Homo sapiens: one gene and its partners. The protein of the gene in region 3 purifies or fractionates together with the protein of the main gene of each other region. This does not show direct contact. Each region holds a gene or a part of one and is shown on either strand. Other genes may lie near its edges.

The links.
Region 1: the proteins of NELL1 (region 3) and NICOL1 purify together in Homo sapiens (affinity purification with mass spectrometry; 2 studies listed by BioGRID and IntAct, with this or other methods). This does not show direct contact.
Region 2: the proteins of NELL1 (region 3) and EMILIN2 purify together in Homo sapiens (affinity purification with mass spectrometry; 2 studies listed by BioGRID and IntAct, with this or other methods). This does not show direct contact.
Region 4: the proteins of NELL1 (region 3) and EGFL7 purify together in Homo sapiens (affinity purification with mass spectrometry; 2 studies listed by BioGRID and IntAct, with this or other methods). This does not show direct contact.

Annotation. Positions count from the first base shown.
Region 1 is NC_000004.12:2,038,052-2,044,469, forward strand, and holds NICOL1 (NELL2-interacting cell ontogeny regulator 1 precursor), read left to right. Parts: upstream 1-3,943; 5' UTR 3,944-4,017; exon of another isoform or gene 4,018-4,124; intron 4,125-4,275; coding exon of another isoform or gene 4,276-4,300; coding exon 4,301-4,433; intron 4,434-4,684; coding exon 4,685-4,773; intron 4,774-5,809; coding exon 5,810-5,875; 3' UTR 5,876-5,913; downstream 5,914-6,418. UniProt on the Homo sapiens protein: mRNA-binding protein which interacts with a range of target mRNAs including SERPINE1, ACTA2, CCN2 and COL4A1 and may promote extracellular matrix production.
Region 2 is NC_000018.10:2,842,633-2,850,026, forward strand, and holds the start of EMILIN2 (EMILIN-2 precursor), read left to right. Parts: upstream 1-4,373; 5' UTR 4,374-4,556; coding exon 4,557-4,690; intron 4,691-5,176; coding exon 5,177-5,299; intron 5,300-7,394. UniProt on the Homo sapiens protein: May be responsible for anchoring smooth muscle cells to elastic fibers, and may be involved not only in the formation of the elastic fiber, but also in the processes that regulate vessel assembly. Has cell adhesive capacity.
Region 3 is NC_000011.10:20,924,584-20,931,607, forward strand, and holds part of NELL1 (protein kinase C-binding protein NELL1 isoform 1 precursor), read left to right. Parts: intron 1-2,129; exon of another isoform or gene 2,130-2,213; intron 2,214-2,724; coding exon 2,725-2,859; intron 2,860-3,793; coding exon 3,794-3,896; intron 3,897-7,024. UniProt on the Homo sapiens protein: Plays a role in the control of cell growth and differentiation. Promotes osteoblast cell differentiation and terminal mineralization.
Region 4 is NC_000009.12:136,658,914-136,665,930, forward strand, and holds the start of EGFL7 (epidermal growth factor-like protein 7 precursor), read left to right. Parts: upstream 1-4,002; 5' UTR 4,003-4,165; coding exon of another isoform or gene 4,166-4,195; intron 4,196-4,494; 5' UTR 4,495-4,710; intron 4,711-5,775; exon of another isoform or gene 5,776-5,778; coding exon of another isoform or gene 5,779-5,872; intron 5,873-6,854; exon of another isoform or gene 6,855-6,904; intron 6,905-7,017. UniProt on the Homo sapiens protein: Regulates vascular tubulogenesis in vivo. Inhibits platelet-derived growth factor (PDGF)-BB-induced smooth muscle cell migration and promotes endothelial cell adhesion to the extracellular matrix and angiogenesis.

The DNA of each region.
Region 1 (6,418 bases), on a different chromosome or scaffold from region 3:
TTATTTGACCTATGTGTTATTAAATTTGTGCATTTAAATTTCCAAACATATGGAAGTTTTCACTTATATTTTTGTTATTATAAGTAATAATTACATTGATTTGTAGTTAAAAAAATGATCTGTATGATTATTTGACATGTTTAAATTATTTGACATGTTTAAAGCCTTTATTAAGTGATCAGTGTGTATATATATATATATATATATATATATATATATATATATATATATATAAAATTAAAATTTTTTTTCTGGAGACAGGATCTCACTCTGTTGCCCAGGCTGGAGTGCAGTGGCACGACCATGACTCACTGCAGCCTCGAACTCCTAGGCTAAAGGGATCCTCCTGCCTCAGCCTCCCAACTAGATGGGATTACAGGCATGCACCACCACATTCAGATACTTTTTAAAATCTTCAAATCTTTTGTAGAGTTAGGGTCTTGCTATGTTGTCCAAGCTGGTTTTAAACTCCTGGCCTCAAGTGATCCTCCCGTCTCTTATAAGCACAAGCCACTGTGCCTGGCCTAATTTTTTTAAAATTAAACATTCTGCATATACTTAAACAGAATGTATTCTGAGGATACAGTGTTCAATATATGTACTCAATTAGATAATGTTTTGTGAAGCATTCAAATCTATATCCTTACCAACTCATTTCCTGTTTGAATAATTATCAGAAAAAGCACGTTAAAATATTACACTATAATATTGAGATTAATTATTTCTTCTGTACTTCTGTCAATGCCGCTTTCAATATTTTGAAGCTTTGTTATTTAGTGTCTTGCTATATCACAACCCCTTTTGACATCAGTACCTAGAACTGGGTTAAAATGTTTGCCTGGATTAGGGTTAGTTTTCAATGAAAAATCCTCAGCTCTGTCAACGATCTTTTCATCACCTGGGAGTTTATATCAACATACAGTTTTGGTATCAAAATCAAAGAAAGCATTAAATAAGCGAAATGTGTGAATAACACAAGTGAGATTTGTGCAAATTCATTTTTTTTAAATGATGGTGAGCGTTGTGCTTGTCCTCTTGTTGGATTCACGAAATAGAGTCACTATCAAAAGAATACATTATGGCTGAACTCGGTGGCTCATGCCTGTAGTCCCAGTACTTCGGGAGGCCAAGGCGGGTGGATCGCTTAAGGTCAGGAGTTCAAGACCAGCCTGGCCAACATGGTGACACCCCATGTCTACTAAAAATACAAAAATCAGCTGGGTGTGGGGGCAGGCACCTGTAATCCCAGCTACTTGGGAGGCTGAGGCAGGAGAATCGCTTGAACCCAGGAGGCAGAGGTTGCAGTGAGCCAAGATTGCACCACTGTACTCTAGCCTGGGCGACAGAGCAAGATTGCGTCTCAAAAAAAAACAAAAAACAAAAAAAAATTACAGAGAGACCTGTCTCTAAAAATTACAAAATGGTTCTCACCTATAAAATATTGACATGTGATAGTTCAAAATTGCTTGCTAGAAATTAAAATTACTAAGAGTTAAACTTAGGCCAGGTGCAGTGGCTCACGCCTGGATTCCCAGCACTTTGGGAGGCAGAGGCAGGTGGATCACTTGGGGTCAGGAGTTCGAGACCAGCCTGCCCAACATGGCAAACCCTGTCTCTACCAAAGAAAAAAATACAAAAATTAGCCGGGTGTGGTGGCACGCACCTGTAGTCCCAGCTACTGGGGAGGCTGAGACAGGAGAATCACTTGAACCCGGGAGGTGGAGGTCGCAGTGAGCCTAGATCATGCCACTGCACTCCAGACTGGGTAACAGAGTAAGACTCTGTTTCAAAAAAAGAGTTAAACTTCTAATTAATATATATAATTCTGTATATAAAGTGCACCAAAAAGATGTGTTTTATGAGAAAAATTATAAGAAAGGCACAAATATGTGTTATTTATTGAGAAAAAGGAATAATTTTAAGGTTATTTCAAATATGGATTTAGGAAGGAAACAGAAACAACATCCAAAGGAACCAGCAAGTATGACAGAGAGAGAGAGACAGAGATGAAGACAGTCATGGGAATGAAGATGCATTTTTGGTAAGAAATATACATATATATATATATTTTTTGAGATGGAGTCTCACTCTGTGGCCCAGGCTGGAGTGCAGTGGTGTGATCTCAGCTCACTGCAACCTCTGCCTCCTGGGTTCAAATGATTCTCCTGCCTCAGCCTCCCCAGTAGCTGGGATTACAGGCGCGTGCCACCATACCCGGCTAATTTTTGTATTTTTAGTAGACACGGGGTTTCGCCATGTTGGCCAGGCTGGTCTTGAACTCCTGACCCCAGGTGATCCACCGGCCTTGGCCTCCCAAAGTGCTGGGATTAGATTGTCCGTGGGCGCGACTGTCCGTGGGCGCTAGGGGCAGGGGTGATAGGAGCAGGTCGCGAGCGGGCGCAGCGTGGGACCGAAGGGGAGAAGGACGCCTGCGGCCCGGCGCGTCCCCGGAGGCACGTCCCCCCCAGGGCTCCGCGGCCCCGGCAACAGCGCGGGGCTACCCCTCTACGGCTCCCGCCCCACTGGGGGACCGCGACGGCCTGCTCCCGGGCTCTTGGCTCCGAGTGGAGAAGAGCGCGGAAGTGCGCACTAGCCCGACACTCGGGAGGGCCGCTGCCTCCCCAGGCGCCTGGGACAGCGGCCCGCAGCCCCCACCCGGCCCCTCGGGCCCCGCGTGCGTTTCAGCGCGCTGAGGATGCAGCACACCCCCGAGGTGCGACCGGGTCCCCGAAGCCCGGCGTCGGCCCAACCCGGAGGAGGCAGCGGCAGTCACGGGCACGCTTCCCCAACCCACCCTCCCACCCACTCTTAGGGTCAGGACACCCGCGTCCGGCCGGGGCAGGGGCGGCTCTGACCACGCGAGAAGCAGGTGCGTCCGCAGTCCCAGCTTGTGCCGGGAAGACCACCGGCCAGAACCCCGGGGGTTGGGGGTAGAGGTCGGCTAGGCTGGGGAGGGGGGCGCCCGAGGCTCCGGGTCCTGCACGGCGAGCGGGGCGGCCTCCAGGTAGGGGTGCGGCTCCGCCCACCAAGAAGAGGGTCTGGCGGGAGGTGTGGTTAGTCCCTGAGCTCCCGGCCACAGCGCGGGCTGCTGGGTGGGGTGGGGGGGGAGCGGGGGCGCCAGCACCCACGTGCGCCTGGGGCGCCTTCTGAGGAGGCCACCGCCTGTGTCGGTGTCGGCGTGGGGGCCTGGCTCCGACGGCTGGGACCATCCCTCCCAGGGCGTCCGGGGCCCAGATTCGCACTTGCCGGGCGCCCCCGGGGGCCACTGGCTGCACGGCGCTCTTTAAGGCCAACAGCCCTGAGTTCACGGGACTGAAATCGGCACAGAGAGGCCGAGGACCTGTGGTCGGGGCTCCGCGCAAGCGGTTCTCCGGTCTCCGAGGACACCGAGAGGCGGAGAGGAGGACCCTGGGTTGGGGGTGGGTAGCCGGGAGGGACCGAGCAGGCTGGTGCCCACCCTGACGCCCGAGGATCGGGGAGAGGCTGGGCCAGGGAAAAGCCGGGCGAGGGCGGATCCCCCGAGCCGATCCCCCAGACCAGCTCTCTCCGGGCGGTGCGACCCCACACTGGACCCCACTCGCCCGCGGTCGGAGGCCAAGCGTTTGCATGCGCAGCTCCCCGCGCCTCGCGAGCATCGAGCAGCTCCCTCAGGATCGCTCCTGACCTGCTGAGCTCCAGCCACAGATTTCCCACTTCCTCAGCTTTTCTCCCGCCGGCCTTGCGCTCTGGAGGTCTCGCCCCGGCGCCGCCTCCTCCAGGCAGTCCTCTAGACTGCATCCGCCATGGGCCTGGACGCTGCTCCCGGGGGCAGCCCCCGGCCAGGGCCAGGCACACCCGATTCCTGGAGCGTCCTAGGTTCCTCTAAACCCGCGGCCAGCGCAGTCTCGGGTTTCCATGACGACGACGTCGGATGGGGAACCCGGGCGGGGTCGGGTCGGAGCGCATGCGCGTTGCGCGCCGGACGCGGAACGTCTGCCGGTGTCCCCGCGCTGCTGGTCCCGGGGTCCCTGAACCGCGGTAAGGGCGGTGGTGCGGGCGTCCGAATGGGCGTTTTCTAGATACGGGGCGCGGACTAGAGGCTCGCTGGGCCCGGAGACCGGCGGACTGGAGTCGGGGAACCGGAGGTGGGGAGGGGGCTCCCGGGCCCGGGGTGGGTGGGTCCAGGGCTCCCAGGCCTGGGGCTTGGACAAGGGTCGTGGGGCCCGCGGGAGGGGACGGGGGCTCACCGGCCCGGGGCGGGCGGGGCGGGCGCCGCTGACCCCTCGCTGGCTTCAGGGCGGCCCCGCTCCCTCTGCTGGCCATGGCCCCCCCGCCCGCGTGCCGGTCCCCGATGTCACCGCCGCCGCCGCCGCTGCTGCTGCTGCTGCTGAGTCTGGCGCTGCTGGGCGCCCGGGCCCGCGCCGAGCCCGCCGGGAGTGCCGTCCCCGCGCAGAGTAGGTGCCGGGGGCCGGGTTCCGGGGAGCGGGGCGGGGCTGGCGACAGGGGCGTGCGGGGCCGGGGCTCTGCGGGGAGGACCGCGCCTCGCCTTTGTTCCCGGGAGCGGGTCCTCCCCTTCGCGGGAGATGGTGGCTTGGGGAGTGGGGACGTGCGCTCTTTGGCACTGGGTGGACGGGCCCAGAGTGCGTGGGGGCCTTGCGGGTGACCCCCCCTGCGCCCCCTCCACCCTGACCCGCGCCCCCCGCAGGCCGCCCATGCGTGGACTGCCACGCCTTCGAGTTCATGCAGCGCGCCCTGCAGGACCTGCGGAAGACAGCCTGCAGCCTGGACGCGCGGGTGAGCGCCCGCGGCGCGACGGTCCTCCCGGGCTTCCCAGGGGGTGGGGAGGGCAGGGAGGATGAGGAAGAGGCCCCCTGCGGGAGTGGAGTGTCCCTCATCCTTCACCCCGATTTAAGATGCCGCACCTTGCCCCCTTCCTCTGGCTCCAGTCATCCAAGGGGCATTCTGGGCACCTGTCTCACCTATGAGACGCCCCTCTCTCCAGCATACTCTATTTCTAGCCCCTCCCCCAGAAGGCTCTCACTGGGCACTTTGTCCTATGACCGCCACTCCTGAGGGCTGTGACAGATCTGGACCCTGGGGAAGGACTGTCAGCCCAATCCAGGATCCCCTAGGTGGGCGGCAAGGCCCCAGGGCAGAGGAGAAACTGAGGCCGGAGGATGTGGCGAAAGTGTCAGGAATGGGGGGTCAGGCTGGGCAGGGTGGTCTGGATCCTGGGTGGATGCACAGGTTGGTTAAGGCCCCTCCAAGCCTGGATGAACAGGGAGCCCCCACGCCATGGGGTGCAGCCAAGGAGTTTTTGTTTGTGCCGGGGCTCAAGCTTCTTCCTGGAAAGGGAGAATTCTAGGAAGGAGAAAGCAGGGAAGACCCTGCCTGGTCCCACCCCCCACCAGCCCTAGTGTCCTTCTTGGGAACACTCCAGAGGGCTCCGACTAAGACCTGGAGCCCTCTCCCCACTCACAGAGCCTGGAACTGAGCTCTTGGGAGGAGCAGCCCCCACCTATCCTTAGGCATGAGGGTGGCAGGGAGTGGGGGACAGTGGACCCCTGCGGGTGGTGTGGGAGCTGGAAGAAGGCAGGTGGGCACGCTGGCATGGCGTGGGCACCAGCAGACCCCAGGCAGGCCCCACCAGTGGGAGCCACTGCAGAGGAAAGAGATGAGTGGGAGGCTCTGGGTGTGGGGGTTAGAGCCAGGGCCTGACCTTGTCTGTCTCAGGAGCCGGTGGAGATAGGGCTGCCTTGGGTGGGTGGAGGCCCAGGGGAATGCCAGTGGGCAGCTGGGCTGCACCCTCACCCCTCTTGTTGCTTTGCAGACGGAGACCCTACTGCTGCAGGCAGAGCGCCGTGCCCTGTGTGCCTGCTGGCCAGCGGGGCACTGAGGACCACGCTGCTCCGTGTGAATAAATGCCCAGTGGCACGCCTGTGTCCTGTCTCTCTGTTCTGGCCACCAGAGCCCCTGCGTCGCCCCCGGCAGTCCTGGGTTGGGCCCCTCTCTGGGCTTGGGTTTCCCCAGCTGTTCCAGCTGGGCGAGCCCTCTTGGCTGCTGTCCCATACCAGTGCCCGTGCGGAGAGGTGGACACACACGTCCGACCTCAGTGACCTGTGCTTCCTCGTACCTGCTCCCCTGCCTGCCTCCCCTTGTTTTGAGGCTGGGGAAGTGTAGAAATCGGCCTGACCCCCCTGAGCCCCCAGAGCAGCTGCCCCAGGGCTGAGCCCCTCCAGGCTCCTGCACCACTGAACTGGTGGACCAGCTGCCTGAGACTGTGGGAGACAGAGGGTCCCGGGGAGAGAGGGCAGGGCCACCCCACACAGCATCATCTCCCCTGCCAGCTCCCACCTGCAGCCCTGAGCCTGGACCCTGGTCACTGGGGAGCTCTGGATGGGAACTTGATGAGGCCGTACTGCCATCCACACACCTGTGC
Region 2 (7,394 bases), on a different chromosome or scaffold from region 3:
CAAAAAAAAGAAAGAAAAAAAAATTGTTCTGAAGGTCCCTCTCCAACATAATGCCTATTTCAAATGGAGCTAAACAAAATTGTATTGCCCATATCCTGGCATTCCAGAACACAGAACAGGCTAGATGCTGCAGCCAGTTCATTTTTCTTGGGGATGTTTCTCTTTCCCTATTAAACTCATTGTTTTTAAAAGAAAGAAGGGTGTCTTTTATTCAAGATATCTAGTCTTCAAGAACTTTGTTTTTCCATCATTAAATAAGCAGAAAAAGGAAGCAATAAAGACACCTAAAAGTACACCTAGAAATCCAGGGGACAGTTTTTTTGAACTTTTGAATTCCAGAAAGTAAAGAGCTGAGGCGGGAGGGTCGCTTGAGCCACAAGTTCGAGACCAGGCTGACAACATAGTAAGACACCTATCTCTACAAAAAAACTGATAAAAATTAGCCAGATGAGGTGGCACGTGCCTGTAGTCCCAGCTATTCAGGAGGCTGAGGCAGGAGGATTGCTTGAGCCTGAGAGGTGGAGGCTGTAGTGAGCCATGGTAGCACCACTGCCCTTCAGCCTGGGCGACAGAGCAAGATCCTGTATCAAAAAAAAAAAAAAAAAAAAAAAGGGAAGATGAGGGATCAGAAGGGCGGAAAGACAAGGCTAATCTCATGATTCTTGACCACATCCTAGATGCAAATCAGTTCATCTTGATCAAATGTCCCCTGCGCAGATGACGGGGGTGGGGCTAGGGGAAATGTATTTGCCTGCTGCCTCAGTGATAGTCACTTTCCTTTTCCAACAGGCAATGGAGGGGGCACCTGGGTGTGCTGGAGGCCCAAGAGGCTCACTGCTTCCAAGAGAACTGTCCCTAAACACGTACAGAGCCTGATGAACATCTTACGTCATGACCCACAAGTGAATAAGAGAATGGATTGTATGAAGTAGTTCTTCCTTGAATTTTTGCTTTAGGTAAGTTGGTCACACAATCAAGGGTGTGTGTCCCAAGTTACTATGGGACACTTGTTTTTAAAGCAGAAGAAATTCCTTCAGATTGTTATATAAAATATAGTTTTCAAGTGCTCACTTAAGGTACTTGGCAGCATATAAAAAATTCATACTTGCAGCTTTCTGGCAGTCATATCCACGTTATTGTTCATGGCAGGGATCAGAAGTCCTGCCCAATTAGTCTGTTTCTTAGTGTGCTGAAGCTCTCTATCCTCCGGAAGCTTCCCTCTGTCTTGTTTCTTATGCAGGGCTCTCTGGTTCCTGAGTTTGTTGCATCCCTTCCTCCAGCTGGAGTAGAGAAAACAAAGAGGGTCTCTTGGGATCTTGGCCTCAAATCAAGAAATAACCTTGTGGCTGGGCACAGTGGCTAATGCCTGTAATCCCAAGACTTTAGGAGGCGAAGGCAGGAGGATTGCTTGAAACCAGGAGTTCAAGATCAACCTGGGCAACAAAGTTAGACCCCCCCGCCCATCTCTACAAAAAATAAAAAATTAGCTGGGCATGGTGGTGTGTGCCTGTACTCCTAGCTGCTTAGAAGACTGAAGTAGGAGGATCACTTGAGCCCAGGAGTTGGAGGCTATAGTGAGCTGTGATGGTATACAAAAAATCAGCCTGTTATGGTGGTGTGCGCCTGTAGTCCCAGCTATTCAGGAGACTGAGGCAGGAGGATTGCTTGAGCCCAGGGATATCGAGGCTGCAGTGCACCATGATTGCACCACTGTACTGCAGCCTAGATGAGAGAGCAAGACTCCATCTCAAGAGAAAAAAAAAAAACAAAAAAGTAAAAGAATGGAATAATAGGCCGGGCACAGTGGCTCATGCCTGAAATCCCAGCACTTTAAAAAGCCAAGACAGGAGGATGGCTTGAGATTAAGTGTTCAAGACCAGCCTGGGAAACGTGGTGAGATCCCATCACTACCAAAAATTCAAAAAATTAGCTGAGTGTAATGGCACACACCTGTGGTCTCAGCTACTCAGGAGGCTAAGGTAGGAGGATTGCTTGAGCCTGGGAGGTCGAGGCTGCAGTGAGCCATGATCATGCCACTGGACTCCAGCATGGGTGACAGAGTGAGACCCTTTCCCCCAAATAAATAAATAAAAATACAAAAGAGGGAAGTAACCTTCTGAAAGTCAAGAATGTTCTGTCTTCCAGGGGCAGACCCACAATAACATACATGGGCTTATGTCTAGAGAAAGACATGCAATAAACATTAGCTCACTTAGTTGACTGTCCATCAGGAACGCTAACACCCTTCATTGCATGGCAATGCCTGGAAGCTCTCCAAACACAAGCCCCGTGTCAGTTTGGGCTCACTCATGAATCCTCAGTATTTTTGCACAATGCCTAGCTTGTAACAGATGCTCAGAATGAAATTTATTTACCAATAAATGTTATTGATAGCTGATTAAATATAGTATTGTGGTCATCTCAATGACAAGTTGGCCCTTATACTCTTAGACAACTTCCTATTATAACTTTGATTTGACGGAAAAAACAGATTGACTTGATCAGTTCAATGCACTTTCAAGTTTGAGATTTACCTGTACCAGACACACATTGGAGTTGTTCTCTGCTAATTGTAGACACACACAACTTGTGTGTTTCCCCCATTTCCCCCCCTCTTCCTCTTCTTCATTTCTATACTCTGTTTCTACTCTATGAGTCTTTACGGCCAAGATGGTGTTAGGACAGGCAGGATAGGGAAGTCACACAGAAAGATACAGATTGGGTTACGAAAGACAGCTTTTTATCCCTTTCTGTTATTTCCCCCCCACGGTGGCTCTTTTGAAGGCTGGGATGACTTCAGTCCACTATTTGCATGATCTTCCGCTTAAGAGTCCAGGGACAGATGATGTCCTTACATGGTATAATGTTCTGCTTGGCCCTTGTAGTTTCTACTTAGGGACTTCTCTTTCTTTCATCTGCAAATCAAAAGGTCCAACAACACCATCAAAGAATATTAGAAACAAAATAGACCAATGGCTTCATTTAGTAAAGTAGGAACATAGCAAACGTTTTTATTTTTTATTTTTTGCGACAGATTTTCACTCTTTTTGCCCAGGCTGGAGTGCAGTGGTGAGATCCCGGCTCACTGCAACCTCCATCTCTCTGGTTCAAGCGATTCTCCTGCCTCAGCCTCCCAAGTAGCTGGGATTACAGGCATGTGCCACCGTGCCCGGCAAATTTTTTTTTTTTTTTTGTACTTTTAGTAGAGACGGGGTTTCTCCATGTTGGTCAGGCTGGTCTTGAACTCCCGACGTCAGGTGATCCACCCGCCTCGACCTCCCAAAGTGCTGGGATTACAGGCGTGAGCCACCCCGCCTGGCCCATAGCAAAGCTTTATTCACTTAACGAGTCATGGCCAACAGCGTCTGGTTAGCTCACAGAGGCCACAGTTTTATCTGTGGAGTCTGGTAACCACGCCACTCACGACCCTGTACATTGATTAGATGCAGCAGGTCATCTCAAACACACAGCTCTCTCCAACACCCCTTAGAATACAACACTTGGGTGGTGATTTTACTTAACATTCTGGTACTTCATCCCAAAAAGACATCGGTAGAGATTAGTGTAACTCAACAACAGGCAGAAAACATACAAGAAAGTTTAAGACGGATGTCTAGCAGTGCCTGAACTGTTAAGAAGCAAACGTGAGTAAATGCCTTAGTTTCAATAGAAAAAGAAAGTTCACAGTGGGACCTCAGAAGCAGAGGCTGTGAGATCACCTTTCAAGAATTGGAGGAGAATTGCAGTAAGTGATAGAGCCGGACGCTGAGCTGCAGCAGCCTCTGGGAATTGGCGGGGCTGTGGCTTGTCCTGTCCTGCCGCCCCCCGCGTGGCCTCGGAAACTGTCAGATGGTGCCTAAGGCAGAGTTGGGCAAAGAAAGAACCAGCGTTCGTTTCCTCCTGGACTCTCTAGGTCCATGGAGCTGGTGGGGGAACGGCCCTGTCTTGCCCGAGGAGGAAATTCGAGTCGAGCCCCCACTCCTCTCCCCGCGGGACTGATAAACATGTCCCTCATTCGCCCCGGGAGGCTGGCACCCAGGCACGACGCGAGGACGGCCAGACTCGCCGACGGCGGCCGCGTCCCGGGGGGCCGGGAGCGAGCCTGTCGGAAGGTGGGAGGCGGAGTCGCTCGGCATCTGGGAAGAGACCAAAGGAATGAGTCATTGGAAATGCTGTAACGTAGACCCTTATCCCAAACCCTTTCGCCCCTCCACCCCGAGCCCCCTGCCGAGAAGCGAAGGGACTGGAGACGGGGAGACTTGGTGGGGGGAGAGTCACGTTTCGGAGAGGGAAGTGAAATAAAGAGGGCGGCACCCGGGGGGACCTGTGCGTCATTGAGGGACCGGGGAGAAGCGCAGGGCGCACGGGGCTGCAGAAGGAGAAGTAGGAACGAGAAGCCGGAGGGGGCGGCCGCGGAGCACTGGTTGGAGCGCCGCGAAGCGCCCGAGCCTCTTGCCTTCGCGGGCGGCGCCCTGGCCGCCGGCAGCCTTGTGGCCGGTGCCCCGATCCGCCGCGCTCCGGACCCGGGCAGGCGGGGCGCGCCCGCTGCGCGCGGGATGTGGCAGCCCAGACGGCCCTGGCCCCGCGTGCCCTGGCGCTGGGCGCTGGCGCTGCTGGCCCTGGTTGGCGCGGGGCTGTGCCACGCCGGCCCGCAGCCCGGGTATCCCGCGCGGCCCAGCGCCAGGAACAAGTAAGTGCGCGCCCCTTGGCTGGCCCCAAACCGCCTACCCCTCCCCGGCCCCCAGTTGAGCCCCAGAGCTGCCCTGCCAAAGACGACGAGCGGCAGCCGGGGGCCTCCCTTGGACTTCCCCGGGCGGCTCCCTCTGCGGGGGACCGCGCGCTCCGCAGCCGGCGCCTCAGGCAGAGCTGACTCCGGGGGCGTGGGCGCAGAGAGCGTCCCGCAGACCCGGGCGATCCGAAAACGACTCCCAGGAATTCCATGAGCCCCTGGGACCATGGGTGCTTTTCTTTCCCGTCTTGGTCGGGTCCAGGCGCGCGCTCTCCAGAGGCGCACCCGGGCACCCTCCGGCGTCTGCTCGGTGAAGCTCCCGCCTCCGCAGAGGGCGACGGGCCCCCCCGACCCTCGCTCGGTCTGGTGCCGCAGTCCCCTCTCCCCTGGCCTCATTGTTCTCCGGGTTTACCCCGTGCCCCTCTCCCTCTCTCTCCTGCACCCCAGGAACTGGTGCGCCTACATCGTGAACAAGAATGTGAGCTGCTCCGTGCTGGAGGGAAGTGAGAGTTTTATTCAGGCTCAGTACAACTGTGCCTGGAACCAGATGCCCTGTCCGTCGGCGCTGGTGTAAGTCCTGGAGCCGGGGAGCGGGCGGGGCGCGCCCGGGCCGGGGCGGTGGGGGTGGGGTGGGGTTGCTGCGCTGGGCTCCAGTCCCTCCGGTAAATCCCTTCCAGATCCGGTGAAAAGCCCGCAGCGGAAAAGCGCTCCGAGCGCTCGCGGGGCACCGGCCACGCTGGGCTATTTAGGGAGTGGGTGCTGCCCGAGTGAGTGGGGAGGATGCGCGCGCCTCGGGAGTGTGGGGTCGCGGGGGCGTAGGAGAGGATGAACAAAGCTCCCACTCCCACTTCTGTTTTCTCCCTTTCAATGTTTGTTTGTAACATAAGGCAGCTGAATCTAATTGGATCCATATTGTGTGTTCTGGGGCACACAGAAGATTCCAAAATGTATACTGCTAAAGACTATTCCGTATAGGATTCGCTGAGAGGTTTGGCTAAGTAGTGTTCTAAAACGAGTGAGTTCTGTCCGTATGTCCCCATAAAACGGAATCTTCCAGTTTTGTAGATGTCTAAGCTAAAACCTCAGGAACACTTTGCTTAAAAGTGTGGCTCCCCAGCATCCCTCCCCGCAACTTAGATTTGGAGATTCTCTAGAGATTGTGGGAGAGAATGGCCGTTAAAGACAGGGGGAAGAATTAATCATCTTTTTGCTTATAAAGATTTCCCCATCTTAAAAAAAAAAAAAAACAGGAAGCAATGCAATAAAGTACAAATGCCGTTAAATACATGACACTCATTCAATTGTCATCAGGCAAGTCTTTGGGGGTTTTGTATCAGTCTGATACCGGAAGATGGGCCAGTGTGAATAAATGGCTGTTGAGGAACACATGTGATGGCTGAAATTAATTGTTTTCCACTAAGAATAAGTTGTTTGTCTTAGAGCACAGTTGTCATTACAGCAGAGAATAGTCAGTAGGCGGATCTGTCTTTGGCAAAACCAAGGGACAGACTGGAACTTGTACTCCAGGAAACCTTATTCCAGAGAACAGTAGATGAGCCTGTAGTCTTATGGGAAGTGGTCGCTGGGTCCACCCCACGTGGGCTTCTGGAGGAGCTGCCAACAGGGTTCAGCTAATTCCTGCTCGGCAAAAACAAAGTAAAACAAACAGAAACTTAGACGAGGTCCCCATTTCCTAATATACAGTGGAAAACGCTGAAATTGAATGCCCAGCTAGGCTATCTCTTTGAGTTGGATACATTGTCAGAGAGATAAGGTACTGTCATCCAACCTTAATCTCTTAGTAAGATTGAGACCTCATCGTCTATGGCCAGCAGTCAACGACATCAGAACCAAGCAAGGTTTTTACACTGTGGGAGTGATACAAACTAAGTATTCAACTCAGTTTGAATGCATTTGTTTAAAATTAGAATTGAGTTATTAGTCAGGAATATTTTATTCATCTTATACAAGAACTGCATGGTGTGGCTTGCTATAACCTTAAAACTTACTGGTGACAATTCGGAGATAAATGAATTTTTCATTTTGGGAGGTAATGCATTTTTGTTTAAAAGATGGCTTGTTTTTATTTTCTCAAATTATTTTAGCTGCTTGGAAAACCAAAGGATGATTTAATTGTTCTATTTGACCAAAACTCAGTGAAACTTGGCTGTCAGTGGGGAGTGAATCGCCTCCAGATTGGCAGGTCAATGCAAGGCAGTGGGAGTGCATTTTTGCCACCCAGTGAGTAGGACAACAGAATTATTATAAAAAATGACAGATGTTTCTGTTGTTTTATTAAACAAAGCCAAAATAAGTGACCTGGATGTTTTATTTCAATAATAACCATATAAACAATACAAGTGCATTTTTACATTTTAAGTACTGCACTGTAAGTGTGAAGTTTAAGAAACAAAGACTGAGTTGATGAACCTGAAAATCTTGACATTAGCTTCAGCAGTAAATTCAGTCTTGACTTTTTTCAGTTTCTTTAGGGATGGAACAGAATGGTTTATCTTATTTTTCAACTGAGGAATGCTTCCTAAGATTTCTTTTTTGTTTTTTGTTTTTTGTTTGTTTTGTTTTGAGACAGAGTCTTACCATGTCACCCAAGGTGGGGTGCAGTGGCGTGATCTTGGCTCACTGCAACAACTGCCTCCTGGGTTCA
Region 3 (7,024 bases):
TCAGATAGATATAGAGTTGCCTTTTGGGCCATTTAGTCCTTAAGAAGTTCCCTTCTTGGAGTGATATAGACACCAGAATTGTTCCAGATTTTCAGAGTAAGGCACGTATGGGTCCTCTCACAAAGGTACACAATTCTGAGACCCTTTTAGGAGGAATGCAGATCTGGTTCAACTCTGTTGTTCAATCCAAGGTCATATATCTGTTACTGCCTTGTGTAGGAACTACTGGGGCTATGGAAATGAAGTAAAGATAAGTGATAAGTTGTTACTTTCTTTCTATTGAGGTTCCACATCTGTGGATTCAACCAACCATGGACCAACAATACTCAGAAAAAAATTCCAAAAAGTTACAGAGAGTAAAACTTGAATTTTCCATGTACCGAGTACTGCATTGAATCCATGTGAATGAATTGATGTTTAGACATTGTATTACTTATTATAAGTTATCTAGAGATGACTTAAAGTGTATAGGAGGATGTGCATACGTTATATGCAAACTATACTATTTTATATAAAGGACTTGAAGATTTTCAGATTTTGGTATCTGCAAGTGGCCAAACCATATGCCATCATCCCTCAGTGTCCAAGAGTATCACCAAACTCAGCAGTGTATTTTATCCGTTTCCTAAAGCATTGCCAAATAACTTAATTATCATAGATTCTATAAACTCTATGATTAGGCTGGAGTTTTGTTGTATTAATTTATTTATTTATTGAGATGGAGTATCGCTCTGTTGCCCAGGCTGGAGTGCACTGGCATGATCTTGGCCTGCTGCAACCTCTGCCTCCCAGGTTCAAGAGATTCTCATGTCTCAGCCTCCAGAGTAGCTGGTGGTACCCGCTACCACACCCGGCTTTTTTTTTTTTTTTTTTTGTATTTGTAGTGGAGACAGGGTTTCGCCATGTTGGCTGGGTTGGTCTCAAACTCCTGACCTTGGGTCATCTGCTCGTCTTGGCCTCCCAAAGTGCTGGGATTATAGGTGTGAGTCACTGCACTTGACCTAGGCTGGAGTTTTAAATGAAACATGGATTTTTAGAAGATCATGCATATTAGAAGGAGTGATAGGAAGCTAATATTTCAGGCAGCGTCAACTCTTAGTTCTTTAGGGGCTGCTCATGGTGCATGGTGGTTGGTCTAAGATCCTATTTTTTGTTTTTTCTACCCTTTGCTACCACCCACAAAAGGCAGACAAGGGGTAAATTTTCTTGAGAAATTCCAAAAGCTTGGAGGAAGAGGATGAAATAAATGACAAAAACAAAGGTTAGAATTACATGTGGATTCCATTTCCAGAGAGTAGTTCTGGTATGAGTAAGTCAGAGGAAGGTGTATGAAATGGAACCATAGTTAATGTAGAAAGATGGTGGAAGTCATTCCCTAGGTTTATCTATTATGTCTAAAATAGTGGCTCAAAATAATCTTAGTTAGATCAAAGGTTGAATTGATCTCCTGTATGGGGAAAGTACTTAAGACATGAAAGGATAAACATGATTGAGAAGGAAAAGAGAAACTCAGATAATTTTCTAGGAAACGATACTTGTTTTTCAATCATGGTGGTCTCTATGTAAGGGAAAGGAAAGGAAGAGTAATATCACTACTAGGTTGAGTTACTCTTTCGTGTGGATGTGACAGTAGACAGATCATATCAAAGTGCTGTATTTAGGGTTTTTTTGCACCATATTTTTGAAGGTAAACTGGAGTAGGCTGTATGAAAAGTGATCAGAAGAGAGGCTTGGAATCATATCATGAGGAGCTGTTAAGGGAACCTGGTGGTGCCAAGTGTGGTCAAGACGACAGGATAACCTCAAATGCTTGAAGATTAGGTTTGCTCAGGATGGATTACAATGAAAACCTAGGTATGGCAGGAAAAAAAGAAAGATTTCACAGCCAAAACCATGAAAAATGTTTCAAACAAGAGAGCTAACTGAGAAAAGTGGCTTTCCTTGGAAGATAATACATGTTCCTCCACTGGAGATGTACAAAGGCTAGATAATCACTTGAGGTTTCTTGTGAGGATATTCAAGCTTTATAATCCCTTTCCAGCAGGAGAGTCTAAGACTCTGTGATTATTGGCAATGACTGGGTGGCCTAGAAAAATAAAAAAGGTTATTTTACAAAATTCTGATCTTACCTGGGGTTTTGGTTACTTTTCCTGTCCTTCTTCTAAGCACAAAAGTGAATTCCTGGGGCATTCTGTTTGGGGGATCCGCTTACGACTTTTCTTTTTTTCTGACCCCAGCTCTCCAGAATTTTTCATCAGACAGAAGGCAGTGACTTCCTAGTTTGTAAACCACGACATTCTAGTTAGTGTGTGAAGAACATAGAGAGGATAGTGGGAGATAAATGTAAGTGCCTCGGAGTTCCTGATTAGATCGCCTGTAAACATCATAATGAGTCCTTGAGAACACATTCATTATGAGTGTTTTTGTGTGGGCTTGAATGGAAAGCACACACATTTATGAACACCCATGAGGTTCCTGAGTTACAGTTTAATGTCTCATTTGGTATTCATTAGACCATGACAGCCAATATTTCTTCAATTTAGAGTGATTCCACCTTGTGTAAAAAAAATAAAAAAAACAAAAAACAGATAATGCTAAGAATCAGTGAACTGCTCTGAGCATTTTTTTCTCTTCTCAGAAGGATTTTTTTTCTTGTTGCTATTAGCTTTGTTAGGATGATGCAATTGAATTACAGAAATTACATTCAGTAACTCTTGTTTGCAGCTAAATTATGCAGAGACAAGACTTAGTCAATTGGAAAACTGTCATTGTGAGAAGACTTGTCAAGTGAGTGGACTGCTCTATCGAGATCAAGACTCTTGGGTAGATGGTGACCATTGCAGGAACTGCACTTGCAAAGTAAGCCTCTTTGTAAATAAATACAGTAAAAACAGTTTTAAGGGGAGAGGTTTGATAATTAGAGTGTAACCTGGTTCTTTAATAAATAATATTAACTCTGAGAATTGTTAGGTTTTTACCTAGCACCCACTAGCCATACGAGCAATTGTGAAGCAATGCTGGAAGAGTGTCATGTCTTATATGAATACTTGGAAATTAAAATCTGCTTTCCCTTGCCAACACACCCTAATTTGATTTAATAGGCAATGTTTGGAGTTTGAAGGTTGGGATATAGTGGAAAGAAGGGACTCCTTTGATTTTCAAACAACCTAATGGTTATCCTTATTCACAACCAGAATAACTTTAAAAGGGGAGTTTAATTATTTTCTACATGTTTTTATTGTCTTTTGCAAAGTGTATCCATCACCTGTTTCAAATAATTGCAAGGCATTTCCTCCCTGACTCACTGTCAGTGTGAGGATATCCATTATTTGTATATCCCTTCATCTGTTTCAGTGAATTACAACATCCCCCTCCAAAAATTAGTATGGAAACCCTGTCCAGTTGAAATTACTTGATAAATATCTGAAGAATGCCATTGTTTGTCTAGGAAAATACAAAACAGATTGTTAGAGCCTCAGAAATGATTGACAGAGTCTGCAAATGTGTTATTTATGTTCTTATAAAAATAGACTTTTTGTTTTCTGCATAATCTAGTTAGCACACATGGGCAGGTAGGATGAAACCAGTGATGTATTTCAGAAAAGTAATTGAGGTGGTACAGGTCATTCGGGCCGGAGAAAACACTTCATCTGTGGTCCTGGAGTGGACTGGGAATTCGAATACTGCTTCTGTTTCCCTGATGAGGTTTCTGGGATGAGATTTCAATGATCTCCACAACAGGAGCTATCAAAGGATACTTCTGAGATTATGTTCCATGTCCTTCCTTCCTCAGAGTGGTGCCGTGGAATGCCGAAGGATGTCCTGTCCCCCTCTCAATTGCTCCCCAGACTCCCTCCCAGTGCACATTGCTGGCCAGTGCTGTAAGGTCTGCCGACGTAAGTACTGACTGAGGGTCAGACTGGCTGTCTGTGTTTTGAGATTTATTTATTTATTTTCCCTGTTTTTCTGGACTCAACTGATTGACATTGATGAAATGAAACATTGGCAGTTGATGTAACATTAAATATATGGTAAGAAGAGCCACAATATTTTAATCACTTGCAATGTGGCAGACACTTAACATGGGCTATTTTTTTTTTTAAATCCTCACATCACCTGTAATTACTATTCTTCTTTCATTCTATGTGGAAGGAACGTGTGTTCACAGGGATTAAGTCACTTGTCCAACAAGTGGGTGAGGCTGATCTGTGAATTTACAACTCCAAAGCTCCATAGGCTTTAGTCCCCTCATTCTAAATGATCAAGTTAAAGGCCAAATTCTGTATTTTGGCTTTCTGAGGTTTTGGCTAGATTCTCCTCTTATTAAGAGGCCTTTGTTAGGAACTTCCGGATGAAATTCAGTTAAAATACTGAAGCTGTCGTTTAGAACATGTGGTATGTTCCATATACTGTGCTGGATGCTTTAAATCTACTAGCTTAGTGAATTCTCACAGCAACTCTTTAGGGAGGTATTATTATTATCCCTATTTTACAGGAAGCTGAGGCTTAGGGATATTAGCTTACGAAAATCATGAGGCTGGTGAGTGGCAGAGGTGAGACAGAAAACTAGTTCTGTTGACTACAAAGCCCATAGCCTTTTTATCAGTCCATATGGTCCTCTACAGAAAAGGAGAGTTCTGGTCAGAAATGTGTGCTATGGATAATTTTCAAGGTCATTTATTTACCAAAAGAAACACACCAATGTCAGTAGCCTTCAAAGCACAGTGGTCTATCATTCTGCCAGGAACAGCATGTCACCTATTATGACACTGAAAGTGGGAATAGCAGTGAAAGTGGGTTGCAGCAGCCCAAATAATTGTTGAACTTTTCAAAAAGGAACTTTGTAATCTTCCTTTTTTTTTTTTTTATGGTTGGCACACTGCACCCATTGCTCTGGGGGATGTACTTGGAGTTGCTCTAAAGAGAAGAACTTTCTTATTTCTGTTTCAAGAACTTTTGGAAGTCATGTCTGGCAATATAGGCAGCTCAAGTGTCTGGATATTGAATTATAGTTTGATCCCATGATGGAGAGAGTTGTTAGTAGGTACAGATTATTTGTTTTTATTCTTGACATTCTTCAGCAGAAGAAGTTGAAAAACTATTAGGGGCCAAGCACAGTGGCTCACGCTTCTAATCCCAGCACTTTGGGAGGCCGAGGCCGTCGGATCACCTGAGGTCAGGAGTTTGAGACCAGCCTGGCCAACATGGCGAAATCCCGTCTCTACTAAAAATACAAAAATTAGCTGGGTGTGGTGGTGGGCACCTGTAATTCCAGCTATTCTGGAGGCTGAGGCAGGAGAATTGCTTGAACCCGGGAGGCAGAGGTTGCAGTGAGCTGAGATCGCGCCACTGCACTCCAGCCTGGGCAACAGAGTGAGTCTGTCTCAAAAAAAAAAAAGAAAAAAAAAAAAAGGCTATTAGGGATGTATTAAAAAATGTGAGATGTTTTAGTCTATTATTTAGAGTTCCTGCATAGATCTCTGAATGCCATCTCTTGAAAGTTGTTGTTTGGACATGGAAGTAATGAGTCCTTCGGCAGGTTTGTGTCTTAACTTTTTGACGTTTTTTTAAAATTATAAAAGCACTGTGCTTTTGGCTTAACATTTTGAAAACACAGAGAATCATAAAGATCAAGATGGAAAGTTCACCCATAATAGCTCCACTTAGAAACACTCTTGAAATTTTAGTGGATGTGTCCTTTTTTTAAGAAAAATTACATTTTGTGTGCAGTTGAGGTTGTATTGTGTGGGCAATTTTTTATTCTAGTCTGTTAACTTGCCATTGTCACTTAAATATATTATTATGTTTTAAAAACTTCTGCATAAATGTCATTTTCATGAGCTTCATTGTTTCCCATTGTTTGGCTGTTGCATAACTTTTTTTTAACCAGTCCCAAGTCATTGATATCTAGATTGTTTCCCACTTTTCACTATTATAAAGCACGCTTAAATAACATGTTTTGTATAGAAAACACATTTTTGTATATTTTTGTATTTTATATTTCCTGAAAATAGAATTCTTCAGGCCAGAATTACTGGGCCAAAGATGAACATTTTCAAGGCCCTGGATACATACAGTTAAATTGCCCTCTCACTAGACGTGTGTGGGACGGTCATTTTTCTTTGTGCTAATTTGTTTGATAGTTTTAGGTTTTTAAAATTATTTCAGAAAATAACTCAATTTTATTAAAATGTTGATACACACACTAACTAAAACATCAGTTTTTTTTTTTTTTTTCCCTTTGCATGGAATTCATAGCAATTTAGTTAGGTAGCACTAATTTTCTCACAGCTCTGATTGGTAGTTTGATGTGTTCAGAGTTTAATAAAGTGGGAATACAAATAAATTATTAAAACACTATTCTAGACAAACTTAAAAAGAAATGATACAAGGCACCTCTGGTAATTAAAAGGTTGAGAACTTCTGGGCTGGAGGGCTTTCATTTCTCACTAGTTTTTAATAGAAATATGCATTAGGTGATTACTGAGTACTGATGCCTGGAATAATGATGAGGGATCCTTCCCTGCTTTAGAGGAGCTCACTTTCAAGGTAGAGACGTGGTTTACAGTGTCTGGAACTGTAAGTGCACTAACATTAGGCATGTGTTGGAGTACAGAAGAATGGCCTGGGAGGGAGGGGGAGAATACCGGGGGAAGGCCTGGGATGCTTCCCGGAGGACATGGAGCCAAGTTAAATATTTTGAACCTTCTAGAAGTTGACTTTTGTGGGTTAAGCAGTGGGGTGGAGAAGAAGAGAATGAGGATTGCTAGAGCAGAGTTCTAACACTAATCAGTGGAATTTCTAGATGTTTCCAATGTCTTCACATCAGAAACATGGTAGAGTATATTTACTTTGGTTGTCCCTTTTAAATATAAGTATGTGAGGTAATGCATATGTTAGTTAGTTCTTAGCCATACCACAGTGCCTACGTATTTCAAAATATCATGCTGTAGACCGTAAATATGCATACCTTTTGTCAGTTAAAAAATAATAATAAAATATAAAAAAAGACAAAGAAAAAATT
Region 4 (7,017 bases), on a different chromosome or scaffold from region 3:
CACGCCATCAGCTGGAGCAGTGGGCAGCCCCAGGAAGGGAGACGGGAGCGGCCAGGGGAAGGGCGAGGGGTCCCCCGGGCGACCCCCGAGGCTCAGGCGCCCGGACTCCAGTCCTGGGCCTCCGTTTTCCACCCTTGAACAAGCGGCTTCCACCTGTGAGCCAGCTGCCTCCTCTGAAAATGGAAGCCCCTCAACTCAGAGGGTGTCGCTCTGGGACGTGGGTCAGGGGCCGGAGCAGGCAGGGAGAGGTGAGAGGAAAGGCTGGGGACCCTCACTTCTCCCTGCCCAAACCCTCGCTCGGGAGCAGACGGCTCCTCTGCCCGCAGGCACCCCTGCCTGGCAGCTCCCTCCAGCCCCCGTCGGGTCCGGGACGTCCTCTGATGGGAAGGTTCCACCACATCCGTGGCTGACAGAGCCAGCCCGTCCGAGGCCGGGGGGCGCTCGGGGTAAACAGGAAGCCCCATCCCTCCCGCACTCTGCTTCACTCCCTCCTCCTGCACCTCCTGCAGCCCGGCTCCCGCGGCCGCGCCTGGTGCCCCTCTGTCTCGCGCCACCTGAGATGCCCAGGCTGGCCTCTGCCAGGGGCTTAGTCTGCCCTCTCCTGGGGCTTCAGAGGCCAAAAGCACCCTGGTGAGGGGTCCGGGAGGCCCGGGAGGGCCCGGGGGGCTCTGCCAGGCCCCTCCACGCCTCTCTGCCCAGCCAGCACGCTCTGGGAAGGTAAGGCAGCCCTTCCCCTTATAACTAACCTCAGAACATTCCCAGGTGGCTGGAAGGCCACTGGACAACATGGCCCTGCTGACAAGAGAGACAATGGGGAAACTGAGGCCTGTGTGGGGCACAAAGCTGGGACCAGAGCTCCAGCTTCCTGCCCCTGCCGGGCCTCCACCTCTGACACCACCCCAGGCAGGGTGAAGCCCTGGGCTCCAGACCTTCCAGTGCCCAGATGAGGACAGGCGCAGGCCTTGGGGTGGCCACACTCTCCCACCAGGTCTCCCCCTCTGTGCTGGGCCCCTGAGGTGAGGGGAGGAGGCCAGGCGTGGGGCCCGGCCTGGCTTCTGTGGGGCTGGAGCCTGGGCAGGAGGCACTGCTGACTCCCAAAATGATTCCCTGCTGAAGGTCTGTGCCATGATCCCAAACACACACCACCAGAGCGGCCAGGGCAGGGAAGGGGGCACCTCCAAGGACCGGAGGGTGAGGGAGGGGCCCGCCTGCCCCTTGCTGAGCCCCTGGGCCTTGGGCACAGAGTGTGCTCCACCCATACCAGAACCCGGGGGCAGCCCCAACCCCCTGGACCCCCAGTACCCTCTGGCGTCCAAGAACCCATGTCTGTCCCCTGCCAACCCCCCGCCCCTCCTGTCCCCGCTGGGCCCCCGACATTAGGGCAAGGCCGCAGCCCACCTCCTGTACCTGCCTCTGAGGCTCCAGGAGCCCAAGAGAGTGGAGTGCCCCTCCTGTGGTGGCTCCAGGCTATGGGATAGGGCAAAGCTGGCACTCTGGGCCTGAGCCCAGGCCTCCTTCCCTTGGGGAGGGTCTAGTCTTGGCCTGGGGAGGGGCTGGGGGCAGGGCAGAGCTTATCAGGAGGGGGTTGCAGTGAAGAACAAGTTGGCAGCAGGCGGTGCCCAGCCCCCCAGGCTGTCACCCAGGAGTCCAGTGCCAGGAGGACAGCCTGGGGAGGACGCAGACTCTGCCCTCGCCCCTTGCCTGTAAGCACAGCAGTCAGTTCACCGGGAAGGCCCCCAGCGGGCCAAGCCTTAGCAACTCGTGCACTCGGCTACTTAGCTATTCCTGCCCCGAGCTGTCCCCTGGCCGGATAGGTCTGATGACAGGGGCTGCTCCAGGTTGGGACATAGGACAAGCTGGGGTGGGGGACATGGGGCTCCCCAAGAAGAGGAAGGAAGGGTGAGGCAGCCTCCTGTGCCGAGCATCCCAGCCCTGTCCGGCCTCCAGGCTCACCTGGGCCGGTCACTTCTCCCTCTGGGCCTCAGTTTCCCCCTCTGTACACAGAAAGGGCTGGATCTAGCCCACCCCATGCTTGTGGGTCCTTCCACCAGGAGGCCAGGGCAGATCCAGGGGCATGCAGGTGGGGGAGGAGGGGGCAGGCCGCAGGGATGCAGGCAGAGGGCAAGAGGGCACCTCCTGGGATGGGGGCACAAGCCTACTGGGCCCCTATACGGTGGAGTAGCTAAGTAGCCGAGTGCACGAGTTGCTAAGGCTTGGCCCGCTGGGGGCCTTCCCGGTGAACTGACTGCTGTGCTTACAGCCAGGGGCGAGGGCAGAGTCTGGGTCCTCCCCAGGCTGTCCTCCTGGCACTGGACTCCTGGGTGACAGCCTGGGGGACTGGGCCCGGCCTGCTGCCAACTTGTTCTTCACTGCAACCCCCTCCTGACAGCTGGAGGGACAGGCTGGCCAGGGCAGGATGAGCCCCTGGGTGGGAGAGCCAGGGGGCCGAGGGAGGCACAGGGCGGCTGAGGGTGCAGCCAGTAGGGTAAGGGCCAGATCCCAGGGTGGCCTAGTGTGGAGGAGGTGGGGAAATGGGGTTCTGCCTATCTGCTCCAACCTCAGGGCAGGGGCCACCTCTGGAAAGAGGCCCCTCCCGCTCAGACCAGCGGTGCCTGGGTGCCAGGAGCGCCCCCTTAAACCAGCTCAGTGACCATGAAGCAGGTGCAGAAACAGGCCCGGAGAAGAGTGAGGTCCTGCCTGGCTGAGGCCCTGAGCCCTGACCACAGCCTGGCGCCCAGAGCAGACCCTTCCCCTGGCCGTGGGTAGAGGGGAGCTGGTTCCTGCTTGAGGGGGAGGCGCATCGCGTGTGGGTGAGGTTTCCACCTGCCCTCCAAAGTCCCGTGGGGAATTTCCCCAGCTGCCCCAGCCTCCCTTGGCTCAAGTTGCCCAGCTGAGTGGGGCTGGAGAGGTGGGGGCACACTGACCGCCCAGGGCCAGGGAAATGGGGGTGTCCCAGGCATCAGGCCGACAGGGGCTGACCCCAAAGCAGGGCTCACACCCCACGGACAGCGGGGTTGGGAGAGGCCCTGCTCTCCTGGGGTTCCAGGCGTGCCCTCCAAAGCCACCCAGCTCCCTTCGGCACCGTGTCCCCTCCCACCCAGCCCACCTTTGCCACAGTGGCTCGCTCGGCCTGAGGCTCCCACTGCCGTGTGAACAGGGAAGATGAGGGTCAGACCTGGAGGCTGGGACGCCGGGAATCTGACAGAGCACCCCCTGTGATCACCCACAGTGTCCCGCATCCCTCCCCACACCCCCGGCCGCAGCCTGCTGCCAGCCCAGAGCACCCCTGTGAAGTGGGGCTGAGGGCATTGGGCCTGCTTGCCCATCTCCAGGGCAGGGGCTCACAGCCTCACTGGCAGCTCTTTTAGGGGAGAGAGCTTGGACTCCATGCTTGTCCCCTCCCGTCACCCCCTCACCATGGGCCTCAGGGACCCACGGAACAGGCTGTTCTCGGACCGCTCAGCCTGTCTTGCCACCCCAGTCCCTTCCTGCCGGGCCTCGCCACTCGCCATCCCTCACTGGTCAAGGCTCCTGTGTGGCTGGTCCCTGCCTTGGCCTGGGGCCCCTCCAAGCTCCCGTGCTGTGTCACACACATCTGGGGGTGTCCTGGGGGAGGGCCCAGCATCCTTGGCCCAAAGATGCAGCAGCTCCCTTCTGTCCAGCCACACGTGAGCATGGCCTGTGAACCCACGGTCCTGGGAGGGCCCTGGGCTTGCGTCCTCCACCCCACACTCTCCCCAGGGTCTCCAGCAGGGTCCAGCCCTGGTTTCTGGCTGTTTTGGGGCTAGACTCTGATGGCCCAGGGGACGGCTTCCCCACCCCTGGGCAGTTTGTCCAGGCCCCCTCACACGGTGGCCCCCACCCCCCTCAGCCTCCTGTTTGTCCGACGACACGTCCCCGTTATCAGCGGAGAACACACACAGGAAGTCCGGCTGGGAAGGGCCCATCCCAATCCCGATTACCCAGGACGGAGCATAAAAAGCCGCCCTTCCTCGCCCGGGGGGAGCCTCCCTGCACCAAGCTGGCCCTGCACGGCTGCAAGGGAGGCTCCTGTGGACAGGCCAGGCAGGTGGGCCTCAGGAGGTGCCTCCAGGCGGCCAGTGGGCCTGAGGCCCCAGCAAGGGCTAGGGTCCATCTCCAGTCCCAGGACACAGCAGCGGCCACCATGGCCACGCCTGGGCTCCAGCAGCATCAGGTATGGCAGGGGTGGCCTCGGAGGGGCAGGGAGCGGACAGGGCGGGCCCCCCATTCCCCTCACTCCCGCTGACCGTGGCGCCTGCTGGCTGCTCCGCAATCTGCTCCCCAGCGAGGTCACAGGGGAGGGGTCCCAGTCTCCTCCCCTTCTGCACAGAGGAGGCCACTGAGGCCCCTTGGCCAAACGCCTGCTAGTGGGTGGCCCAGCGTAGATCCCAATCCAGTCTGCTGACTCCAACACTTCACCCCCAGTCGCCCTTCCCCTGAACCCCACCCTCTGGCCTTTCTCTCCCTCCGCAGAGCAGCCCCTGTGGTTGGCAGCAAAGTTCAGCTTGGCTGGGCCCGCTGTGAGGGGCTTCGCGCTACGCCCTGCGGTGTCCCGAGGGCTGAGGTCTCCTCATCTTCTCCCTAGCAGTGGATGAGCAACCCAACGGGGGCCCGGGGAGGGGAACTGGCCCCGAGGGAGAGGAACCCCAAAGCCACATCTGTAGCCAGGATGAGCAGTGTGAATCCAGGGTGCGGGACGTGGGGCTCGGGCTTAGGGATGACTTGCTGGGTGCGGTGGGCAAATGGGTGACTCTGTGGGCCCCCCTTGGACCCTGGAGACGCCCTTGTTCTCCCTCTCCCCAGCCTCATGCAGAGTGGCTGAAGCCCCATCCCAAAGCCCCCAAAACCACAGTGGGTCCTAGAAGGCCCCACTTTTTGTCTCATACGTCCACACCAAGAAGCCTGTCTGAGAACCCCCACTTTCCAAATGGTGCCTAGCCAGGATGGGGGCAGCGAGGGCTGAGTCGGGGCAGCCCTGGAGCTGCCCTTTCTGCTCCATCGCCTCTTCCAGACTCAGGCAGGAGAGGTGGGGAGGCAGGTCAAAGGGTTAAGTGACCGCAGATCCAGAGATGAGGCCAGGGGCAGGGGACAGGGAGGGTGGCGGTGGCTCTCCCACCCAGAGGCCCCCTAGGCCCCACTCTGAACACTTCACTGCTGGGGGCTAGGTAAGAGCTGCCCTGCGTGGGCTCAGGGCGCCAGGAGGCCTAGGACTCCCCAGTCAGATGAGGAACGCCCCCTGACAGCAGCTGCTCTGGTCGTCCCTTGGACCACGTGCCAGGGGCTTCCAGGGCCCCTGGTCCAGAGCAGTGGCCACTGGATTGCAGGGTGGGGCGGCCTCATTTTGGGGACTCCTCTCCAGGGACCTGGGCCCCTCCCTTCCTCCAGCTCCCATGCACCAAGGTAGGACCAAGCTGGTGGCCCTCTCGGACCCATCTGCAGGCCCCTTGCCCAGCACCCTGGGTTACATGGAGAGACCTCCAGCTCCACTCACAGCAGCCTCCCATCCCCATGCCAGGGAGTCCAGGGCTGGAGGCAATAACCCCATTTTACTGAGGCCAGGGGCTGCGGATCCGAGAGGACAATCAGCTCAGGACAGGATGGGGTCGGGGTAGGTGCAGGACAGGGGCCTGTAGGCCTAGTGCAGGCGGAGGTCCCACAGCAGCACCGAAAGCTGGTCCCGGGCCCCTTCCCAGCCCCCAGACATCAGGGTGACCAGGACTGTGCATAGGCACTAACCCACAACTCCTCTCCAACCAGCAGCCCCCAGGACCGGGGAGGCACAGGTGGCCCCCACCACCCGGAGGAGCAGCTCCTGCCCCTGTCCGGGGGATGACTGATTCTCCTCCGCCAGGTGAGTCCCAGCAAACCCCTTGCTCCGAGGGAACACTTCTCACACCGGCGCCCACGCGGGTTATGACACAGGGCGCTGGCTCCGGCTGGGGTCTGAGGGGCTGCTGAATTGGGCTGGCCCGAGCCCCACGTGCCGCGCCCGCAGTAACAGCTGTAACAATTGTTGTGTGGCCACGACCTCACCGTCACTAGATCCCAGGGCTGTTTAGCCCCATCTTATAAATTTGGAAATGGAGGCCTGGAGAAGAGAGGTGACCAGCCCAGGGACCTCTGGTGTGAGGAGACTCTCTGGGGGCCTGTGGATTCGCTGGGAGGAGTGTTCTGCGATGGCCCTGACTGTGCTGAACTCAGCAGTGACCCAGTGACCCCGGTGAGGGTGCCTGATGCCTGAGAGAGGGCCAGGTGGGGGCCGGCGCAGGGGCCCCCAACCTAACACGCTAAGGCTAGGAGGCAGGCCTGGGCTCTGCCATGTGGTCTCAGAGGAGATCTGGGTCTCTGGGCCTGCGGTGGGGACGGTCATGATGCCCACTGCCTGCGAGGCTGCAGGACCCAGCTCAGTGCTAACCTGCGCCGGGCGCCTACCGCGCGGCCCCCCAGCGGCTGAGATGGGCGTCCCGGGGTGGTTTTCAGCCTGGGGGGCTTGAAAGCTAGCAAAGGGCCCGCAGCCCCGTCAGTGTGGGCGCCCTGGGCGGCCTCTCCTGGCTCCTGGCGGCCGGGCTTGGTCGTGCGTCCCCAGCGACCGCGCAGCGAGCGCCCTGCCGCGGGGACTCGGGCCCCAGGATTCCCGGAGGGGGTGCTGGCGGGCCGCGGCTCAGAGGCGCGTTTGCGTCAGCCCCGGGTTCCAGCAGAGTCACTGCCCGCCCGGGGGCAGCTCGTCCGCCGCGGGGCCTCAGTTTCCCCGTCTGCGCAATGGGGGCGGGGCGGGGCCGCCAGGTGGGGCGGGGCCGGGGGCGGGGCGGGGCGGGGCTCGGGGCCCCCACGGCGCGGGCTCGGGCGGCAGTGGCGGCGGCGCGTGCGCGCCCCGGATCCGGCGGTGAGTGCGGAGCGAGCGGGGCGCGCCGGGGTCGGGGTCCGGTCGCCGCCCGGGCTGGGTCGAGGGCGGGACCCGCGGAGCCCCCGGGGGCGGGGAACCTGGCCGCGCGCGGA